Linked DNA regions of Homo sapiens: region 2 is linked to region 1. The links come from fine-mapping of genetic effects on gene expression. A gene starts in region 1. The other region holds a variant in brackets. All regions are shown on one strand. Distances are between the middles of the regions. Region 1 holds the start of CD1D (CD1d molecule). Region 2 overlaps LOC105371460 (a long non-coding RNA gene).

What was found. PIP is the estimated chance that this variant, and not a neighbour inherited with it, causes the effect.
Region 2: its variant is fine-mapped to the expression of CD1D in whole blood (TOPMed, PIP 0.94).

What each region holds. Positions count from the first base shown.
Region 1 is chr1:158,173,136-158,184,098 of GRCh38, forward strand. It overlaps CD1D (CD1d molecule), which reads left to right and starts at 7,760. Exons shown (of 6, transcript NM_001371762.2): 1 at 7,760-8,027; 2 at 8,320-8,586; 3 at 8,897-9,175; 4 at 9,743-10,021; 5 at 10,801-10,900. The coding sequence starts at 7,967. LOC105371460 (a long non-coding RNA gene) reads left to right here. Exons shown (of 5, transcript XR_922187.3): 5 at 1-79. It also overlaps the pseudogene ELL2P1. RefSeq lists a silencer at 6,769-6,818 and an enhancer at 8,231-8,290.
Region 2 is chr1:158,145,395-158,156,460 of GRCh38, forward strand. All of the region lies in intron 1 of LOC105371460 (a long non-coding RNA gene), which reads left to right. Among named protein-coding and RNA genes, the nearest start is that of LINC01704, 10 kb to the left of the region's middle. The variant T/C (reference allele first, on the strand shown) is at 5,351.

The DNA.
Region 1 (10,963 bases):
ACCAGAGCAATTTTGGGGTGTGTGGACTAATGCCCCCAAATGATAAAACAATTCCATTAATGCCAGTGCCTCTTTGTTTTCCCAGCGAGAGTCCACCTGAAATCTCAAAGGAAGAATGGAAAGCTATCCCTGATATTCTAGCATCACTGTTATTTGGCTTCCTGCACTCAATGGAAACAATACCCTAACCTTTCCAATAATTAACCTAATTACTACCAAGTATATGAAATCTATCCAAGTGATGCCTGCAGAAGGGATATTGTGCCTCCAAGTATTGCAAACTCAAGACCTGGGGACTACCTATGTGGGTAAGAGTAATTGCTTATATGATCTTACTAGATTAAATGTAGTGAGGTGTCTTTCCACTAAACGTGTTTATGTACCCTTACAGTATGCTATAAAAGGACCACAAAAAGGTCAGTTTCCCACTGGACCTTGTTCAGGAGCTATGCTCACTTATGGGCAGATAAATTTATTAATAACTTGACCTCTGCTCAAACACCACTAGGTATTTTTCACCTCATTTTCAGCCCCTGAGATCCTATATTGGGTCTATGGAGAAATTGTGTACTCTGTTGTACATTGCCTCCTTGCTGGCTTGGATCTTTCTGTTTGGTCTTGCTCACTCCTGCCTTCCAAAAAGCTCTGCCTGGAATTACCCATGGTACTCACAGGCCAAAGAGGTCAATAACTGAAATTAGAACCAACCTCAAAACAGATGAAGATCAGTTATTTTCTGTGGAGGAAAGGTTCCAATAAAGTTCCTGGGGGCTCACTGTTGGCAGCAGTGGGGTACTAGTTGTATGGAGTTTGAAACCAATCTGTTCAAGTTGGGGAAAAATCTTGCATTTGGAGCCAGTGAGACCTCCAGGGTTGCAGACACTTTCTAAAACATTTTTGTTTAACTAAACACTTAATGAAACATCTTATAGCCTTAGATCTCCTTTATGCCCCTATTGGGCATTGTATGTGGTGTTGAACAAAACTGAATGTTGCACTTGTCTTTTCTCTGATTTTACTACTATCTGACACTTACTTAAAAAGGTAGCTAATATTGCTGTTCCTCTAGATGCTGCCACCAAATACATTAAGGAATTTTTTTTTGTTTAGGGGAAAGACACATAATGTATTTACAGGAGCAGCTAACAATTGGTTTGCAGGCATCCTTCATAGTGGATGGCAAACTTGGCTATTACAAGGTTTTCTTTTTTTTTTTTCACAACAAAGTTATTTATTTGTTTTTCTGGATGCTGGAGACAAACATCTTTATTAAAGACACTACCAAAATTTTGGCAAACATTTCAAAACAGATTTGTAAACATAATGCTTCCCTTTTCAACTGGCAGCACTTTGAAAAGACAATACAATAAGACAATGCAAATTGAATCAGTATTAGTTCAAAATCCTTATATTTTTGACCACATAACTTATGTTCCCACATGATAAAACAAGTGACAGTTTAAATCAACGTCAACACATAAACTGCATGAAATGAAAGTTTGTGCTGCTTGATGAATCACAGTATGTTATGGTTAAATATATCCACTCTTTTTTATATTCCTGGCACCAGGATGAAAAAAAAATCTTTAAGTATACATCTTATGTAGGTAATAGCTTCTTTGCATATCTCTCTTCAAAAAATACTTTACAGCAGTATATAAATAGGTTACCTACACATTTAATTTTATAATTTTGTCCCAAAACTATAGATCTGTTTCATTTTCATGACATATCAATTTTTGCCCAACATTAATAAAGCTGACAAACTCGTTGAAATGGAAATGCTTTTGTCTTCCACAACAAAAGTTGCAATTTGATAGAAAAAACAAAACAAAACAAAAAAACACCCTACAGTAACACTCGTCAGTTGTTTAACCTGAGCGTTTGGCCTACTAGGAGTAGCAGCTTTTTTCCTTCATGCACGCTCACATCCACACCGCCTCTGCACACATACAGATTGAGCACACACTTCCAGATGCTGGTAGGCCAAAATATGCTTCCCATTGCTCTAATCAAGTGGGAAACAGTGTAGCTAGTGATTAACCACACTATATACACAACTAGCAAATACCTTAAGGCAACCATTGCAATGGGGGGTTAACTTGCAGGGTGGATTTAATGTTCTAGATCAAGTCAGCCTGTATATACATATGTGTATGTGAATCTATACACGTACACCTTTCTATTTTTTAACCCTCCAAGACAATGTTTATTTTTTTAATTTTGTGCAAATTTCTAAATATCCTACCATTTAAGGCAAAGAGTTTGCATTAAGAAAGGTCAGAAAATAGGCTTACGTTTATTCAAAAGCATCTCACCTTGCACACTACTGTTGTTGTTTTTTAAACACATACAACTTTTAAGTGTGGACACTGGATCCCCAATATCTAAAAAATTATTTCTAATAACAAACACAAGTTTTTGAGGAAAAAATGATTTGAAATATAGACAATGGATCCCCAATTCCTAAAAAATTATTTCCATTAACAAACACAAGTCTCGGTGGTGGGGTGGTGGGGAGAACCAGAAAGAGCAGCTTTGAAATGCAGGGAAGCAAAGTAAAATGGAAAAGAAAAAGTAACTGAAGTTTACTAATACTGAAACTTTCAACAGCCAAAGTTTCACCTTTTTAGAATCTAGAGCAACTCATTTGGAATTTTAAATAAATAAGCTTAAGTTTATTCACATGTTCTGGTCCAAGCAGAGTTCTAGGGCCATGACTCTGCCTGCTGTTGGTCAAATTCGCCTAGTAGCCTTTTGATGTGAGCCAGCTTGTTATGAAGATATTCACATCTGTATTTTTCTTCATGGTAATTGGGACTAGACTGCTTTATCTTCCGATATTCTTGTAAGACTTCTTCATGAACATTCTGATACTCTTTTGAGCCTGGAGAAAGGCGCTTTCTTTGTGCATCTAGTTTGATAAATCTTCTAGCTACAGTCTCCATCCTGGCATGCAAAGCTCTGTACTCATCATACTCTGCACTGACGTCATCTTTATAATTCCGGCGTTGCTCATAGGAGATGATAGCAATATATTTTATCAAATAATCTGGGAGTTCAATTGCTGAAGGTTCCATGGAGGCAGTGCAATCCTCTTTAGCTCCTCCACTGGAATTTGGACTGGAGTTATTTAGCTTGGCAATTTCCTCTTCTCTCTTAAGATCTTTCTCCTTTTCCTCAATAGTCTCAATGTCGTGCTTTTTTATTTGGTCCTTTTCCTTATGTTTTTTAGACTTCTTTTTGGACTTTTTGTGAGACACTGAATGGTTTTCTTCCATAGGCTTTGGACACTTTAATAGAACTGAACCAGGGGGTAAGGTTTCCAGAGAAGTCCTAGAGGTATACTTGTCTTGTTGGTTCTCATAGATACTATTGTTTTGACTAAAACTGTCAACAGGTAGGTCTTGAGCCCCCGGCCTTCTGGAGTGCTAGGGGAATTGGAGTTAGAATTTACAATCTGAGGAGGATGTGAAACCGGCAGATGGGTTGAAGGCAAGCGGTGGAGGGGTGGGGATGGCAGCAGCTGCAGGGGGCAGAGGGAGGCCTGCAGCAGATTTTTCACTGGTGGGATTCAAATGACCATTTAGTGTTGGTGGTACTCTGCTCGTCAGGTGAGATATTCGGGCTTTTTTATCCATTAAATGATCAATAAACTCTGAATCCAAAAGCCGTGTCTGAGGAGAAGATACAGCGTTTCTACTAGAACATACTGGAGATTCTGAACGGCTGGTGCCTGCAGCATTCTGAGATGGATTTAGTTTTCTAGAGAGCATTGACTCCAATGACCAAGTGTCTATTTCACTGTATCCAGGCCAGTCTCTCTGAAGCTCTTTAAAAACATAATCCTTTGAAGTATACGAGAGGTCCTTAGGATTCAGATTGGCTACCTGTTGCAGAATTGCTCCCAGGGAGTTCCTGTCTTTTTGATTGACACCATCTTTCTGGAGTCTAGCAAGTAGCTCCGGTTTCTTGTAGGCCTTCAGGGCCAGTAAGTGAACCACCCTGTCCCTGTATGGCTTCTGAGAGACGCTGCTGCTGCTGTGTGTCTATCGAATTGGATTTGCAGGGTTCATGGGGGTTGACCTTTTCCTCTCAGGAACTGTATCTGAAACAGCTTGAGGTGCTTTCCGAATTTGCACTCTTTTCCCTACATATGGTCCACCGGGTTTGATAACTTCTGTGCTTCGGTTGCGGGATTCCTCCTCTGCCTGGGTCGTTCTTTCTCGTGTCATCTGATCCGAGTCGTTTGTTGCACACACTGTAATTTTATCTTGTATAAATCCCAGGCAATTGAGCTGGGAGGCTCCAGAGCTGGAGAATGTTTGCTGGACGCAGTCAAAGCTGCCCTGAGGGTTGTCTTTGCCCACATTTGACAAATAAAAGTTAAAGTTATGAACTTCATTGAGGGGATCATTTTTGGGAATTTTGACAAGCTCCTGGAGTCTTTGGAACTGAATTGAAGGTCGAAAAGAAATTAAATTCTTGTGGCTCTGGTAAGTCTGGAGCGCCTGGATCGCCGACTCGGTGAGCTTCACATGCAGTACGGTGATGTTGTCCTGCCCCAGCCGTCCGCACGAGAGCCCATAGCGCTGCCCCGCGACCCCCCCACCCCCGACATCTTAAACTCCCAGAGGTGCCGCCGCCGCCAGTCCAGCTCCAGCCTCCACTGCGGCCGCAGCTGCTTGGGCTTCTGCAGCCGCCGCCACTGCTAGGGCCATCCCGCTGCTGGCGTACTGTCATATACTGCGCGGAGCCAGACCTCGGACTGCCATCGCCGCCACCTGCCCCACCCTCTGGCCCCGCGCCCCGCCCCAGGCTAGTCTCATTGGTCTAGTTCCCTCAGAACCGTCCTCATCGGCCGCCCTCCACTTTCACGGGGGCGGGGCCCAAAGTCGCTGGAGTTTTGCTCCTGGGACTGGACGTCCGAGAGGTAAGAGAGCTATCACAAGGTTTTCTAATCCTTATGTTTCTTTTAGTGGATCTCCAGGTTACTGTGGTTTGTATTATCAGGCTACTTACAAAAATGAATACCTCTTTAAATCAGGCCATTTTACAGCAAACTACGGTCCTTGATCACCATTATGCTCTGAATAAAGACTATGAGCAATTGCACTTGAATGCTGTTAAACTTTATTGACTGAACTTTGAATTGTTTGATTTTGATCAGGTTGGCTTGTGGAAAGTGCTATTAAGAAGAGTTCTTTAGTTCGTTGGTATTATCCTCCTGATAGCTATTATAAAAGTTTCCCTGATGTGTCCTCTCAAGAATCTTAAATTCTCATATGCAGCTATCCTTTGTACATTAAATGGTCTCCTTATGGTTAGGATAACAAAAACATGAAGAAAGCATATAAGATTCCAACTAATTTGACGTTGTGAATTGTGAATTCTGAACTGAAACCAAGTAAGTCCCTTATGATCAGGCTCCAAGGTTTTGGTCAGCCTCTCAAAATTGAGAGGCTGAAACCCTTTGACCAAAATTAACACATTTGCCCCTTCCCTCCAGCTCCTGGAAACCACTACCCTAACTCTGTTTCCATAAAATAGTAAACTATTTTAGAGTCCACATATAAGTGAGATCATGTAGTACCCACCGTGGGCTTATTTTAAGGCTCTGAGTAAATCACCATCTCTCTGTGCTAGGGTATTCTGAGTCAGTCTTGTTATAAAATATTTTGTTTAGGTAACATATTGCAAAACGTTTCATAATTCAATGGTTCCTTTCCCAGAAAAAAAGCAGTGAAAGTTCCAATAGCCAAAAAGTGTCTAACTCAACTGACCTTTGGGAAAAAATATCCGTATAATTCCAGATAGTCCTAACTTCTGAAGGTAATATAGCCTGGCCTCTGTTGATAAACAAACAAAAACAAAAAAACCACACACACACACACAAACCAGCTTCTTGTCTTTAAGTGTGCAAGAATGTTAGCACTTAAAATTTTTAAGATACACAAAAACTAAACAGAACTGTTCAAGTTTTTAAAGGGAGCTTGGAAATTTGAAGAAAGTAAAGTTAAAAATATTGCCCCATGAGTCATATAATTATTTTTCTTTTTATTTCTCATAGCTTCCCTCCTATCCATTATTTAGGCAATTTTGTATCCAAATTTAATAATTTAACACCTTATTTGTTACAAGAACACGTTACTATGTTATTTTAAGCTTTTTTGGGCAAATTACACATAATTAGATAGGCTGGGTTAGGGCTGTCTACAAGATCCCAGCCTAGAGTGTGGTGCAGTAGCCTATTTTCTCTAGGACTCTTGCTGCAACAGGATATGGGAGAAGGGAAACATTAACGTTAGCAGAATGGGAGGAATCAGATTATGGAGACATGATCCTTGCCTTCTGGCACCTCTCCAGCTGATTTAGAAGAGGACACAGAGGGAGACAGACATATGGCCATTTCTATAATTATAAACTCTGCTACATGCTGAGAGGATGGCTTCTCAAAGCCAGTTAGTGTACAAGCAGTGGAGGTTGGGACTGCCCTACTTCTCCTGCCTAGGGTCACACAGTCTGGCAGATCTGGAAAGACTTCCCTGAGAAAGTGACCTTGGAACTGATACCTTAGTGGAAATAACTAGGCATTGGGAGGGGGTGAGGTGAGGAGAAGGTCAAGAGCTTTCATGTAGAGGGAACTTTGTGCAGAGACCTTAGTCAGGAAGAGGTTTTGCATAGTGGAGGAACTGAAAGCTAACAGCCAGGCTACAGTACAGAGCAAATGATGCTGGGGTGTGAGGTGATGTCAAAAGGTAGACACCAGGGCTAGAGGGCGCATAATCTTGCAGGCCGTGCTAATGATTTTGTTTTCTACCCAAGAATGCTACTTCAGGAGATCAGTCAAAAGGTTAGGGTGATGGTGACGGTGGAAATATAGAAAAAGGAATTTATTCAAGAGGTATTCAAAAAGAAGTGAAATAGAGATGAGTTGGAGATAGATTGGATAAAAAGAGTGAGGGAGAGGGAGGTGTCAGGCTGCAGCCCAGGTTCTGAGTTGCCAAAGAGGAGTCTTTTCCTCCAGGTGAGCTAAGGCTTAGAACCACGATTTTTGGTCACTTTTTCTTATTTTCAGTGTGAGAAGTGGCGAGTTGGCTGTCCAGGTACACACTGTCATCTTACACTTACTGTTTAAGACAGAGGCGCATATTTGGAAAGTGAATGAGTCAGGAGCCAGAGGAGAAGGTATGCCGGCAGAGCCTAGGGCGGAGAGGAGGAAGAGAGTCTGGGGGCGCGTCCCCAAAAAGGAGACAGGGAAGACAGAGCAGAGGCCGGGGAGGGGAGAGCAAGGACCATGACAGGAGGAAAGAGAGGCTAGGGAACACTGAGGTGGAGGAATCCTGGGATATGACAGTTGTAAAGAATTGTAGCCAACCTAATCCAGTTCTCTCAATGTGCAACTGAGGAAATTAATTTTCATGCGTTTACTTTATTGTAAATGTGGTACTTGCACTTGAGAAATTTTGGAAAACATAAAGATGTAAAGCAAATTAAGATCACTCATAGTCTTTCCACCTAGAGACATGTACTGCTAAAGCAAGGACTTTGATCCTTTTTTCCCTTTGCATTTTTACCATGGTTGGAATTGTAACACAGACACAACCTTATGTCCTGCTTCCAAAACATAAATAATGGTTGTAAAGCGTCCCACACGTTGACCCAAAGTCTCCTTTGAAACAGGAAATTGAGACACGCCGGTTGTGAAACCTACTGAAGTGAGCGGCGGCGCCAGGATTCCTGGGACCCCGACCTCTTTGCAGCTCGCACAGCTAAGGGCGAGGGCGCCCTTCGGCAGAAGCAGCAAACCGCCGGCAAGCCCAGCGAGGAGGGCTGCCGGGGTCTGGGCTTGGGAATTGGCTGGCACCCAGCGGAAAGGGACGTGAGCTGAGCGGCGGGGGAGAAGAGTGCGCAGGTCAGAGGGCGGCGCGCAGCGGCGCTCCGCGAGGTCCCCACGCCGGGCGATATGGGGTGCCTGCTGTTTCTGCTGCTCTGGGCGCTCCTCCAGGCTTGGGGAAGCGCTGAAGGTGGGTGGAACGAGGGCGCTTGAGTGCACTCGCGGGAGGGCGGAGAGAGGGAGCTGGGTAGGGACGGGGAGGGCAACGCCTGATGGGGACTGGTGAGACCCGGGACGCACTGGCGCGATCTAGGTAGAAAACTCGCTGCTCCCTGGCTCCGGGGAGAGGCAGCGCGGCACAGAGTTCGCTGGCATCAGCCGCCTCCTGAAGCTCATCTCCTCTTGTTTCTTTCTTCCTTCTCTTTATGCTGGCTGCTCTCCCGGCCACTTGCTACACGCCTCCAATCTTCATTCTCTCCCAGTCCCGCAAAGGCTTTTCCCCCTCCGCTGCCTCCAGATCTCGTCCTTCGCCAATAGCAGCTGGACGCGCACCGACGGCTTGGCGTGGCTGGGGGAGCTGCAGACGCACAGCTGGAGCAACGACTCGGACACCGTCCGCTCTCTGAAGCCTTGGTCCCAGGGCACGTTCAGCGACCAGCAGTGGGAGACGCTGCAGCATATATTTCGGGTTTATCGAAGCAGCTTCACCAGGGACGTGAAGGAATTCGCCAAAATGCTACGCTTATCCTGTGAGCTGAGGGATAGGATCCTGGGCCGGTACCCAAGGGGAGAGAATGGCCACAGAAACTCAACTGGGAGACTGTGGCACCACCTGATGAGATTCTCTGCTCTGTCCACCCTCTTCTGATTTCCCTTCTACCTGGAGATGTCCCAGGCTTTGACTCCTCAAAGTGTCCCTCGTTCCTGCCTACTCCAGGTCACTTACTTTCCTTTCCCTGAAGTCTGGGTCCCCATTATAACCTGCACATCAATTTCTTCTCTTTCATCTCTCCCAGTCTTTTAAACCCTTCTTTGATCTTTCTCCATTCCTCTCCACAGATCCCTTGGAGCTCCAGGTGTCCGCTGGCTGTGAGGTGCACCCTGGGAACGCCTCAAATAACTTCTTCCATGTAGCATTTCAAGGAAAAGATATCCTGAGTTTCCAAGGAACTTCTTGGGAGCCAACCCAAGAGGCCCCACTTTGGGTAAACTTGGCCATTCAAGTGCTCAACCAGGACAAGTGGACGAGGGAAACAGTGCAGTGGCTCCTTAATGGCACCTGCCCCCAATTTGTCAGTGGCCTCCTTGAGTCAGGGAAGTCGGAACTGAAGAAGCAAGGTCAGCCTGCCTTCCTTACTCCCTGCATTCCACTTCAGGGCTCCAAACGGGCTTTTCCATTCCAGGGTTCTCATCCCTTTGAGCATTCAAAGAAGAGGAAGGCCCAGGAGGGGCTGGATAAGGGGTGAGGGTATTTATTCATTTCACAGACATCAACTGAGCACCTCTTGGGTTCTATGAATTCAATTAATGAACAACTGGGGGTGAAAGGTGTCAGGCAGTTAGTTAGGATCCCTGCTTGGTAGGGGGATGTTAATTAATGCAATGCTTGAAATAGGCTACATATGTTACTTCAAAACAAAGGGTGTTATAGGGGAACAGACAAGGGGCATTCATAGGAGGCTGGGACCAGAGAAGAAGAAGGAGTATCAGGGCAGGCTCCCTGAAGAAGGTGGGACAAATGGATTGAAAGTTGTGGGAGACTTCATTTCCAGAAGTGAACATGTCAGGGGCATACAGGAAGGAGGGAAATAAAGACCTGAAAGTCAAAAAGGATGATATGAGGCCTGGAGCCTCTAATGCAGAGTTTTCACTTTAAGATCCCCCCCATTCCCTTGTTGGATACAGTGAAGCCCAAGGCCTGGCTGTCCCGTGGCCCCAGTCCTGGCCCTGGCCGTCTGCTGCTGGTGTGCCATGTCTCAGGATTCTACCCAAAGCCTGTATGGGTGAAGTGGATGCGGGGTGAGCAGGAGCAGCAGGGCACTCAGCCAGGGGACATCCTGCCCAATGCTGACGAGACATGGTATCTCCGAGCAACCCTGGATGTGGTGGCTGGGGAGGCAGCTGGCCTGTCCTGTCGGGTGAAGCACAGCAGTCTAGAGGGCCAGGACATCGTCCTCTACTGGGGTGAGAAAAAGCTGGGCCCAAGCTGGAAATGGCAGGAGGTGGTCCTCAGGCATAGAGGGAGGCACTGGGGTGGGATGTGGCTTGATATACCCAGGTTAGAGGAGTTTCAGAGATGAGGCCCCCAGTAAAAGGATAGAGAGAGGGGTTCCAGACACAGGAAGGAGGGAAATAAAGACCTGAAAGTCTAAAAGGATTGAAATAGTGCTCTCTATATACAAGAAGAAACAAGACTACAAAACTCAGGGATCCAGAAGTAGGCAGCGAATAAACAATCCCAGGACGATTCATTCCTTGGCTTAAAGGGAGCCAGGCCTTTGGGAAGGCAGGTTAGCAAAGATAGCTTGGTTGGTTGAGTGCTCCCTGTGTAGGGGCCAATGAATCTGCATATAATATCTCATCTCATCATTCACAGTTTTCTTTGAAGCAAGTACTGCTCTTTTCGTTATATAGATGAGGAAATGAAGGCGGAGATAGGTTAACTGCCCGGAGCCACATAGAAAGTGGACGGGCTGGATTTAGATTCAGGTCTGCCTTGCTACAAAGCTGTTGCCCTTTCCCTCTATGCTACACTAGCAAATGTCAAAGTGGGCTGAATTTGGGATGCCCAGGCACTGAAAACAAGATGGGGAATCTAAACTTATGAGGAATAGAAATTGGGGTTTTAAGTGGAGGAGGAAATAAGAAGCACCTGGTACCCTCACACATGCCTAGACCAGGGGATTGGATATATGTAGAGAGGGGTCCTGTGCTGAGAGACAGCCTATGTTCCTCCAGAGCAGGTGGGAGCTACACCTCCATGGGCTTGATTGCCTTGGCAGTCCTGGCGTGCTTGCTGTTCCTCCTCATTGTGGGCTTTACCTCCCGGTTTAAGAGGCAAACGTAAGTCTCCCCTTTCCCTTTCCTCAACCTCTCTCCCCTTCATTCCTGGCTTCCCTTTTCCTT
Region 2 (11,066 bases), 28 kb before region 1:
ATTGTGAGTCTCCATGCCCCAAAGGCATTTCTGACTGGCCAAATTGGGCAGTTACACTGTGAAAGCATAGCTTATAACATTTTTATCTGTAGCAAGTTTTGAATTAGCTAAGTAATGTCCTGTTCTCCATTTAATATGTAATACTGCTTTTTTTTTTTAGTAACCCAATGGGTCCTGAGTAGCTTAGGTGGCAGGCAGGAGTGCCTATACCCCACTGTTAATGGCTTGAACTCTTAGCTGTGAAAGGACATACCCCCTCAGGCAGTGGTGATATTTTGTTCCAGAAGCAGCCAAAATGTCAGTGCCTACAATACACTTAGTGATGGAATCATGATCACTGGCACCTGAAATGGCCCAAAGGGCCCCACCCACAAGCAGATAAGCACCACAAGCAAATAGGTACCATGAGCTACCATATTCATTTCCAAACTTCCTGATGTCATCAGTTTAACTTTTTTTCCCCTAAGGGGACCTGGAAATATTGTAATGTGGGCCCCAGGGCACAAGAACCCCAGAAAAGTCTGAATCCTTCTCCTTCCCCCTTTTATCCTGACAGGAGTATGGAGCCATTGGTACTCAGTGGGGACCCAGAGACCTTGGCTCCATTTCTAACTGCACCATTCAGCCTGAGACATTTGGGTCTGCAGTGTCCTTTATCAAACACACCGCCCAGGCTGCGTAAGACTTCCCTGGCCTTCCTCCATATCCATCCTTTAGATAGGCGGTCTCCCCATCTGTGAAGACCCACCCTGTGTGTGTTGGTTCCCTCTCAGATGTTCCAGGGACTGTCTGAGGACCTCTTTCCCATTCTCTCTCAAGTGCCTCAGGGTCCATCAGAATACCCACTTCCCAAGCTCTCTGGCCTGGGAATGAGCGATTACGTAAGTGCCCAACACCCAGGGAATTGTACACTGCTCTATCCTGTTTCTACATTCCATACCCTCTCCTCGGTCTATGCAGCCAGCTCACTCCCATCTGCAGGGGAGGTGGGGAGACTATGTTTCGCTTATCATCCTTCCCTCCCCATGACTCATCCAGCTGCATGTCCCGTCAGTTCCTGAATGCCCAGGCTGACATCTCTGCCTTGGGTCAGATACAGGGGGATATCACCGTCCCACTTCACCAGAAAGCCATGGTTCTGTCAGATCAGACCCTGCTCATAGCATCAATTTTGTGAGGCAGGTTCACTAATAACCAATCCCAAGAGAAGACTCCCACTACAAGCAGGACAGCAGAGATCGACACTATGCCAATCGACAGAAATAGGAGCCCACACACTTCTGCCCACTACATCCTGGCCTGAAGGTCTACCAATGTCTGCTGGAGATACACTCACATGCAACAAATTTTGTGAGGTGGGATTATTACTTACAGGCAAGCAGCAAGGGAAAAAAGAAGCCTAGGATCCATTGTGAGGCAGCCCTCAAGGCTCAAGGAAGCTTCCTGGGCAGGATTGAGTGTTGCCCGTACATGCCCCATGTGCACCACAAGTGAGGGGCCCCAAAAGGCAGCCCACTATGAGTTATATACCTCAGGGGTCATGTGACTCACTGGACAAAGCTGGGAAGGGCATCCTGCTTCCAGGGGAGAGAGGTACAAAGCCTGGGCTGTCCCTGGCACCTCCTCTCTAACTCCAGATGTTACATTCCCTAGGAGGGACAGGAACAAGGAGGCCCAGTCTATTTCAAGCGGTTCCTTCCTTTCTCAGGATATTGTATTCCCAGCACATTTTACAGTTTTTCTTGAGAATAACAAGCAAGAAAGAGAGGAGAACTGGGTTTGTCCAAGGCCACTTGGAATATATTGTCCTGCGCTAACATCCTAGAGGTGCCATTAAAAGTGGAAAGTTAGTTCTGCTACCCCGAACCATACTACAGCTCCCCATCCTTAACATCTCCTAGATTTAAAACCATCCCCTAGAAGATAATATGGAGGTAAAAAGAGAAAGGGCACTGATGGAGTCGTGTGTACCCAGCCACGGAAATGAGTGATGTGACTTTTGTTCTCACCTCCTCCAAGTGAGGGGTCTCCAAGAGAATCACTCATAGAAATTGGTGGGCTGGCAAGAAGAGACTGTTATCTCAATCTCTGGTTGGATATCTGCTGATGAGCTTGTTGATCTGTACTCTGTGATCACTAGAGCAGGGAGAGAAGGATGACAGGGAAAGAGCTATCACTCTTACCACTTGGTTTAGCAAGGATGTGTGAGTCAAATGAACAGTGTGGAAATCGGTGTGAGTTTACTGTGAGTTAAATGAACAGTGTGAAACTCAACAGGGTGTGGGCCATCTTGCCGGTTCTCCTTCCAAGAGAATTGGCTGCCAAGCCAGGGAACCTAGTTATACCACCAAGAGCAGGGCTGAGGGGTTGTGGGAAGTAGTTATGAGGCAGGAGAATAGGGTCTGAAGGCAAGGAACCTAAGGCGGTTTCATGCCGACTTCCTTAGAACTAAATTGAAAGGAAAGCCTTAACTTTCCACGCCTAAGTAACAAAAGGACCAGAAGCTGCTCCCTTTAAAAACTCCTACCTTTTCTGCAGGGCAGATGGGAAACTGAAAGTACCTCTGATTGGTTGCTTTTTGCAATCAATCAGATGTTTGCATAGGAGTGTAACTTTGTAACTTCACTTCAGCCTCTGATTGGTTGTTTTCCACAACCAATCAGACTGATTGTGGGCCACCACTTCATTTACATGGGGTGAACACCAAGTGGCCGATGGGAAACCTCTAGGGGGTATTTGGACCCAAGAAAATGCTGCATCAGAGCCCTTGAGCCTCTGCTCAGCCTGCTCCCACACTGTGGAGTGTACTTCCACTTTCAATAAATCTCTGCTTTTGTTCCTTCTTTCCTTGCTTTGCTGTGCGTTTTGTCCAATCCTTTGTTGAAAACGCCAAAAATCTGGACAACTTGCAGTCAAGACCCTCTACCAGTAACAGTTTTAAGCTGCAGCAGATCTCCCATCAAGGAATTGTGTACTGGGGAGAGCTCCCAGGGAACTAACCCATGTGCCTATTAAGAACTAGCATTTGGGTACCTTCCAAATGGAAGGTATTCGTGACCAATCAGCCTTCAACTGAGAGGTGGAGAGAACCAACAGACAATTGCAATTAAATGCCCAGTTAGGCAAAATGACTTTTGGCCCTCACTTCCCAGCCCTCCCTGATTTTTCCTCAGGGTCCCAACACAATAAGTATTTTTGGGAAAGGCAGACTTCTATTAAAGGACAGAATACACCACTTCCCCAAACCAAGCTCCACTGCTCAAGTCTGGCTGGTGCTGAGGGGAAGGAAGGAAGTTTTGCAAATCTCACTGCAAAACTTGAAATGAGATGTAAGATTTTAAGTGGACTGCATTAGACTGGACTTCTAATAATTAAGTAAACAGAAAACTACAGAATCCGTCAGGGCTGGAAGAACTGAGAGTATGGTTGAAGGCACTGGTTAAAACCTCATTGAGAATATGTTCAGCAGAGTTCAGAATGTTCATTAAGTTGTTTCTACATGCAAAAAGTCTTTGAAGTAAGAGGCAGCCTGGTTTGTTAAACTGATAGTTTCTGAAGATGACTGGAACACAGAGGGAGAGAAGGAAGTCTGGAAGACTAGGAAGAAGTCAGGCAATGACAGCCTTGTTAAGGTGTTCGGACTTTATTCTGTGGGCCAAGAGAAGCCATGAAATATTTTAATGATCAAATTTGCATCTTAGAATGATCCCACAGCCGGTAGGGTAGGGACTAGAAACAGGGAAATCATTTAAGCAAGAGAAAATGGTATGGCAGTGGAGATAGAGAAATGGCAGTGTGGATGGAGAAAAGTGGGAAGATATGTAGGTGGAGAACTGTCAGGAATTGCTTACTGATGAGACGTGGGCTCGAGGGAAAGGCGAAGGAAGCTTCTCTTTCCCTACCTCTCCTTCCAACTGGCCCTAGAATTGCTGTCCGGTTTCCAGTCCCTGCTCACACTTCATTCAATGGTGGAGGAATGCCCAGCTGCTGTCCCATGGGGGTCTGGAGGTCTATGGGCACCAACAGTACCATTTCCACAGTCTTTCCAGCAGCGATAGGAGGCAGGCTGTGCCTCGAGTGTCATCTGGTTTGGAGGCCGAGGTCCCCACGTTTAAGTGACTTGCTTAAGACCCCACAGCTGGTTTGTTACAGAGTCCAAATTTCACTCTCAGCTTTAGGGCTCTTTTAATAACACTTCATTGCTGCATCCCGAAGTTAAGCAAAAGAAACAAAATAAAGATAAAAAGGAAAGCACTGTTCCAAATGCATAGCCTGGAGCATAGCAAAATATGTAATTAAAGACCCGCGCCTGATGTCGGGGAGCCTCGATGTGCGCATGCGTCCCAGGCTGAGGCCGCCGGAAGAGGTCAGGCGGTTCGCCGGCGTTCCAAGTTGGAGGCCAGCCCAGGACAAGGAGGGGAAGTGCGCATGTGCTCCAAATCATTTCCCGGCCGAGGAAATTGGCTAAGACCGTTAGCTGGTGGGAATCGGAAGAGAATGGGTCACTCGGGCTGTGCGCGGGGCACTATGGGTGTTGTAGTTTTTGCAGGGTGGTAGCAGTTTGTTCTTTTAAGAGGAAATCTTCGCGACTAGTTGAGTCACGAAGATTTTTGAGAAAATCATTTGAGAAAAAGTTGCTTGCACGGGGGAATCGAGTGTGGACTAGCTACGTGGGTGTGGCTTAATTCTGCTGTTTCTCTTTTGGATGAGACATTGAATGAAGTGTGAGCAGGGACTGGAAACCCGACAGCATTTCTAGGGTCACTTTCTGCCTTGCCTTCGTTAACGCTCAGTTCCTCCCACATCTTTGGCTTCCCTCTATAATACCTACAGATTCCCTTTATTATTTCATACTAGCTCCGACTAGTCTTAAATACTCTGTTTCTGTCCTCTTTCTCACACGCAGTTCCTGGAATCTTCATCCTTCTCTCCCTCGTGAGTACCTTTTCTTGTTTTTGTCCTAGACAGGGCTCCTCTAACACTCTGCCCTTGCCCCAGGAGTCACGCCAAGGACCCTAAGAAAAGGATCCCACAGTAAATGTTTTTAGGCACGAGCAGATCGGAACCATCCTACTTCATTTCACTTATTTCTGCTTCTCTTCCGATCCTTGTCTCTTCTGGTTCCACCTCTATGTTCTACCTCTCTGTAGCCTCTTTGCTTCTTTGAAGTCTGGTGGCCTTAGATAGGAACTCTCAGACCTGCCATTTTGTCTCTGGCCTCCACAGCCTGTCATTTAACAGAGGACCTAACCCTGGGTTGACTTCTAGGTCAGAGAGTGGGAAGTGAAACAAATTGGAAAAAGAGAGGAAACTGATGTATTAGGTTTGAAGAAGTCGTCAGGGAGATATA[T/C]GGTGAAAGAGGGGGAAGAGAGAGTAAAACTTCTTGTGCCCTCAAAAACTCTTTAGTGCTGGCTGTGTGCAGAGGTCTGTGAGCTCTGTGGTGGGGATGCATTAGTTAGAATCTTAGATGCTGAGAGTTCAGTTGTAGAGAACACAGATATACAGGTGAGCAACATTGCAGAATGACATCGATTTATCTTTTACCTTTCTGTGTGTGCTTCTGCTCCTTCCCATACCTACCCCAGCTAATTCCAAAGTATTTTGCTTCTTCACATCTTTCTCTGTTATACACTCCACTTCCCATTCTTAAGGCCCCCTTCCCTTTGTTCTGACCCAAGCTATTTCTTTTGTATATCATGTTAAAGTCATATTTTAGTCTAGCTCTCAAAAACACCATGGTTGTATTTTCAAAGAACTTCCAGAATCTGCTTATTATCTCTTTCAAAGCATGAAATATGCAATAAAACCAATACTATTTTTCATTTAAAAAATATGTAGAGTAATAGTTGAAAGTGGAGAGTGATAATGGATGAATGAAAGTTGACCAGAACCCAGGAGTTTGAGACCAGCCTGAGCAAAATGGTGAAACCCCATCTATACAAAAAATACAAAAACTAGCCAGACATGGTGGTGACTGGACCTGTGGTCCCAGCTACTCGGGAGGCTGAGGTGGGAGGATCGCTTGAGTCTGGGAGGTCAAGACTGCAGAGAGAGCCATAATCATGCTACTGCACTCCAGCCTTGGCGACAGAGTGAGATACTGTCTCCAAAAAAAAAAAAAAAAAGAGAAAGAAGGAAGGAAGGAAGTTGGAAATTTGGCTATACCTCATTTTGGTTTTCTTCCTTTGTTTTGAATTCTCAAAAATGTTGGATTCCCATAATACTAATATACATTTGAGACATGTATTTTTTTTTCTTTTTTTACTCAGGTTTGGTTAGCAGGACATTTCCAGGGTATCACAGTATACTGAAATATTACAAGAAAGGTCCATAAATGCTGTACATCCTCCAATCTGTAAATTGTTCAGCAACAGGAAGACAGTGAAAGATAGACGGCAACTCACCAAGAAGAATATGTCAGTGATTTCCCCTAAGATGTGATTGTTCCACAGAAGCATTCTTCAGGGGAGTGGGTCTGTGCAGGCAGTAAGTGGGAAGATCTTCACTTAGTGTGCCGTCCTTCCTCAGCTTCAAGAGAATCCACTTGAAGGAGAAGTCCCATATATTATGTCCAATGCTGTGAAGCATCTTTTGGTGCCTTCATTTCATCCAACACCAAAATCCTCAATGGTGAAGAAATCTATAAATGTAGTATTGACCTTGAGAAAAAGTTGAGCACAACTGCGCCCTCATGCAGCACTGGAGAAACCTATACATGTAAAGAAGGACAGTTTTCATTTGACTCTCAGAGCTGATTGTATATTGGCAAACATATTTTTCTGCCATTGCTTAGGGATAAGAAATCTAACAGAAACATCAAATAAAATACTGAAGAGAGAAAAAAAACACTTTTTTTTTTAAGGCCTTCTAGAAGGGGCAATTGAGCATACTCCACATATGTTGGCTAGTTTACCAGGAAAAAATAAAAGGAGCCAATTTGAGCAGTGGACTCTAGGTGACAGTTCTGTTTGGGCTGATGAAATCGATCAGCCATGAATACTCTGTCAATGTCTCCCACTACGATTCTCTTGCCATTTTTTTTTTTACCCAACCTCCACTATTTGGCCTAAACATCACCTCTGTCAGTCTCAGAGTTACACTCTCCCTCCTGTATTCTCAAATTTTCACATAGTTGTATGTGTGATTATAACATCATGGTTTCAGCTGGTTTCATCCTCTGGTCCGTTTACCCACCTCTTTTGATCATCGCCTTTTGTCTGGGCCATAAGTGAAAGTAAAAAGGACATTAGGTGAGTAGGAAAGGAGATTTGTTCACAATGCCTTTCACCTTGGCATTTGCCTTGGCTTCTGACCTTCTTTACTCTGGGATGCTTTTCGTGACCTCTCACACCCCATGATGGGTTAAGGGGTCTTTCCTCAAGTTGGTTTGCCCCGACTTTAGTACTTAATTATGCTGTATTATGTCAGGCTTAGGTGTATATCCACCTTACTAGTTGTAATCTCCATGCAGACATGGAATATGTCCTATTCAGCATTGTGTTCCTAGTACCTGGCATACAGTCAGTATGAGTAGATGAGTGAATGTAAAGCTCTTGTTTTTGCTAAACCCCTTTAAACCTTCTTGCTTCCCTCTTCCCCGTCATTTTTTCACAGCTCTGTGCTTCCCGTCCCCCATTAGTCCCCATCATTTTTCCACAGATCTGAGTTTTTCCCCCACCATTTATGTTCATACATTTTGCTTAGTTAAACCCAGCTTGCTCGTCACTGGCTACATGGAAAGGTGCTGGATATGGATGATTGCTTTTAGTATCAAAATCTGTCGGAAGTGTCTATATATTTTTCTTCCAGCCTTAGGCTTATTTTATGAAATTAAAATAAATATGAAGACTCTGTAGGTCTTGAGTTAGTATCACTTGAAAATGGAATTTCTCTGAATATTCTCTGAATAGAATAGTTTCTTGCTTGTTGCTGATATTGAATTGTAGGCCATTTTTGTAAGGATGATCAACTCTGAGTCATCCTTACATCCTGTGAAGAGAATAGACTTGTGAAGAGGCTCATCTTTCTTTAGTTTGGGAGTAGTGTTTTCATTTGATTATATTTAATGTTGGGAATTCATACTACTTCCTAGCATATCACGACACCACAATGTGAAGTCCCCATTTAGGAGGCACTAGAAATCTTCCTCATTTCACTGCCTGTTCAATTTCTGCCACCCTTTAAGCTATATTAATTATGACATGTCTTCCCGGATAGATGTAGGTGCCCTGGAGCAAGGCACACCAAAAAACCACTCCTTGTTCCTCTGCCTAATTCATTGTAAAAGCATATTCTTTATGATGGCCTCAATATTGCCAGTATTTTCTCTTTTCATATTAATGTCTGAAAAATGGCTCTGGGATTCAGAAGCTGGAATTTAGATTCTTTGTCACTAAATAGTTTCCCTCTGTTCATTTCATTTTCACTTGAATTCCCTCATATTGGGAATTCCCTGGGGTTACACACCAACCTTCCTTTGACTCTCCCCAGGTGGCTCATACAACTCTATTTGAGGAAAAGATTGTTGGGAAAAGAAACTGTACAGCAGAAGGGGAAGCAAGAAAGGGAAGAACAATTTTACTCAAAATGGTACTTCTGAGTTTAGTTTTCTTTTCAGAGATGCTATGAAGTCAAGCGTACATTTTTCCTTTTGCCAGTTATTCATTTGTTTTATCCTCTTTCTTTTGGGTCTAAGGATTCTTTCTAGGCCCAGTGAAAACTTTTCCTAGATGATGTGTCCATTTGAAACATAGCATGTGCAGAGAATCCTGATAAGGTGCAAGAACGCGATCAGGATTGTTGTGAACAAGCTTTGGCAGGGGGAGGGGTGTGTGTGTTGGAAGCAGTGTGCAGGGGGAGATGTAGAAGGTCAGCTTCGGTTCCCTTTTTTTTTCCGATCAAAATGAATATGAGGAGGATGTTTAGTCCATTAGGAGAGTCTAGAGAGGAAAGGAATAAGGGAGGGTGAGGGAGAGGTAGAAGGGACTACAAGGAGGTCCATTTTACCTGGACTGTGTATTTACTGTACCTGGGGAGCATTACTGAAATGTACAAAGTTGCCTGTTAGGAAAGGGGTCCTGGCTGGTCTCCCTCCCACTGGAGGCACTTTGACCACAATTTTATAGATTGTGAAACAAATAACTTGTTCAAAATCTCACTGCTGTTAGTGACGGAGGAGATGAAAGAACCAAGGTTTGAGCGTTGTTTGACTAAAAAGCTCTTACTCTTTTCCTTATGTTCTGTTGGCTAAGGTATGGTGGGGTTAGGGTGGGGTGGAGTCACTGGCATTTCTGGTACATTCCTGGAGTTCCTCATTAGTAGGGAGGGGTTGTTGGGATGCAGATGTGAACATGGACATGCTAAATGAGGACAAATTATACTGCTGTCTCCTGTCCTTTTTCTTCTTGTGTTGTGACCCTTGATCACTCAGTCAGACATACCAGTGGTTACATACTCACACTACAGCACCTTGACAGCATGGACAAACATCGAGGCAAGGGAGGCATATTTGGGCAGAGTGGGAAATGATCTTGGTCCTTGGGAGTCTTTGGGGATTCTGCTGCTTTTCCTCAAGTACCCCATTTTTTTCTGATCATTTGTGTGTTTGGGGTGAGGTGGCTGGTGCCTAAATAGGCTGGTGCCTAAATAAGATGGGATATAGTGTTCTGGAACCTATGACTTCATCTGCTGCTTGATGTAGGCAGATCTACTCAGGAAATTCCCCCTTCACCTTCATTGAATCTATATTTTCATCCTCAAAATCCTGGACTACCTCCTTCTCTTTCCACTAAGAGTCTTTGCAGACAGTCTACTGGGATGGTTAAAGAGAATCAGCCAGCAGCTTGACTTGTTTCATTTGGTTCTTGGGTGAGCAAACCCCACAGGAAACCCACTCTTTCTCTTGACTTCATAGCGACGTGGAACAGACTTGCTTGCTCTGCTTTATCAGGCTTGGGTGATTGATTATAAATTGAGGTCTCTTACCCTTGGATTATGACAGCAATATATGTATATTATAGACATTTCAGAAAAATCATAAAATTATGAAACAAAAGTCACCTGTTTTTATCTTTACCTAGAGAAAACACTGTTAACATTTTAGAAATTGTTAACATTTTAGAAATTTCCCTTCCAATAGTTTTATCTGCACATATATAAAAATATATTAATATATACAGCTACATTTAATAAGATGTAAATTAAAAAGTTTAAACAAGGCTGGGGAGAAGGAACCAAAGTGTTCCTAATAGTTGTCTTCTTTTAGTGCTTTTTTCCTTATATAAACACTTAACATCAAATGGGACTGATAAAACAGGGTTGTAAAAATTGTAAAGCTACACTATAGATAGAATAGTAGAGCTTCAATAAGTAGAGCACAATTGCCTTAAGGCAGCACTGTTGTCCATGGTTATGTTTCCTGTACCTATTGCTGGGTGGCTGATGGGAGTGTCTTATCAGTCTGGCACAGGATGGGCAGCAACAGTCAAGGAATGAAGCCAGACATTGTTGAGTCAGGCCTGAGGGTTGAGTGAGGCTATGCACAATATGATTAGTCCCAAATTTAGAAGTTAGAATGGCTATAGAATATATAGCACTATCTAAGAGAAGTATAATGCAAGCCATGTGTGTAACTGAAATTTTTCTAGTAGCTATATTAAAAAGGTAAAAAGAACGAGGTACAATTTTATTTTTATTTTTTTAGACAGGATCTCACTGGGTTGCATAGGCTGGTCTCAAACTCCTGGACTCAGGCTCAAGTAATACTTGCCTCAGCCTCACGAAATTCTGGAATTACAGGTATGGGCCATTGTGCCTGGCAATAATTAATTTTAATAATATATTTAACCCAGCATATCCAAACTAATTTCTACATGTAATCAGTAGTTTAAAAATTATTAATGAGGGCCAGGTGCGGTAGCTAATGCCTGTAATCCCAGCAATTTGGCAGGCTGAGGCAGGCGGATCACAAGGTCAGGAGTTCGAGACCAGCCTGACCAATATGGTGAAACCCTGTCTCTAATAAAAATACAAAAAAAATTAGCTGGCCGTGGTGGCATGCGCCTGTA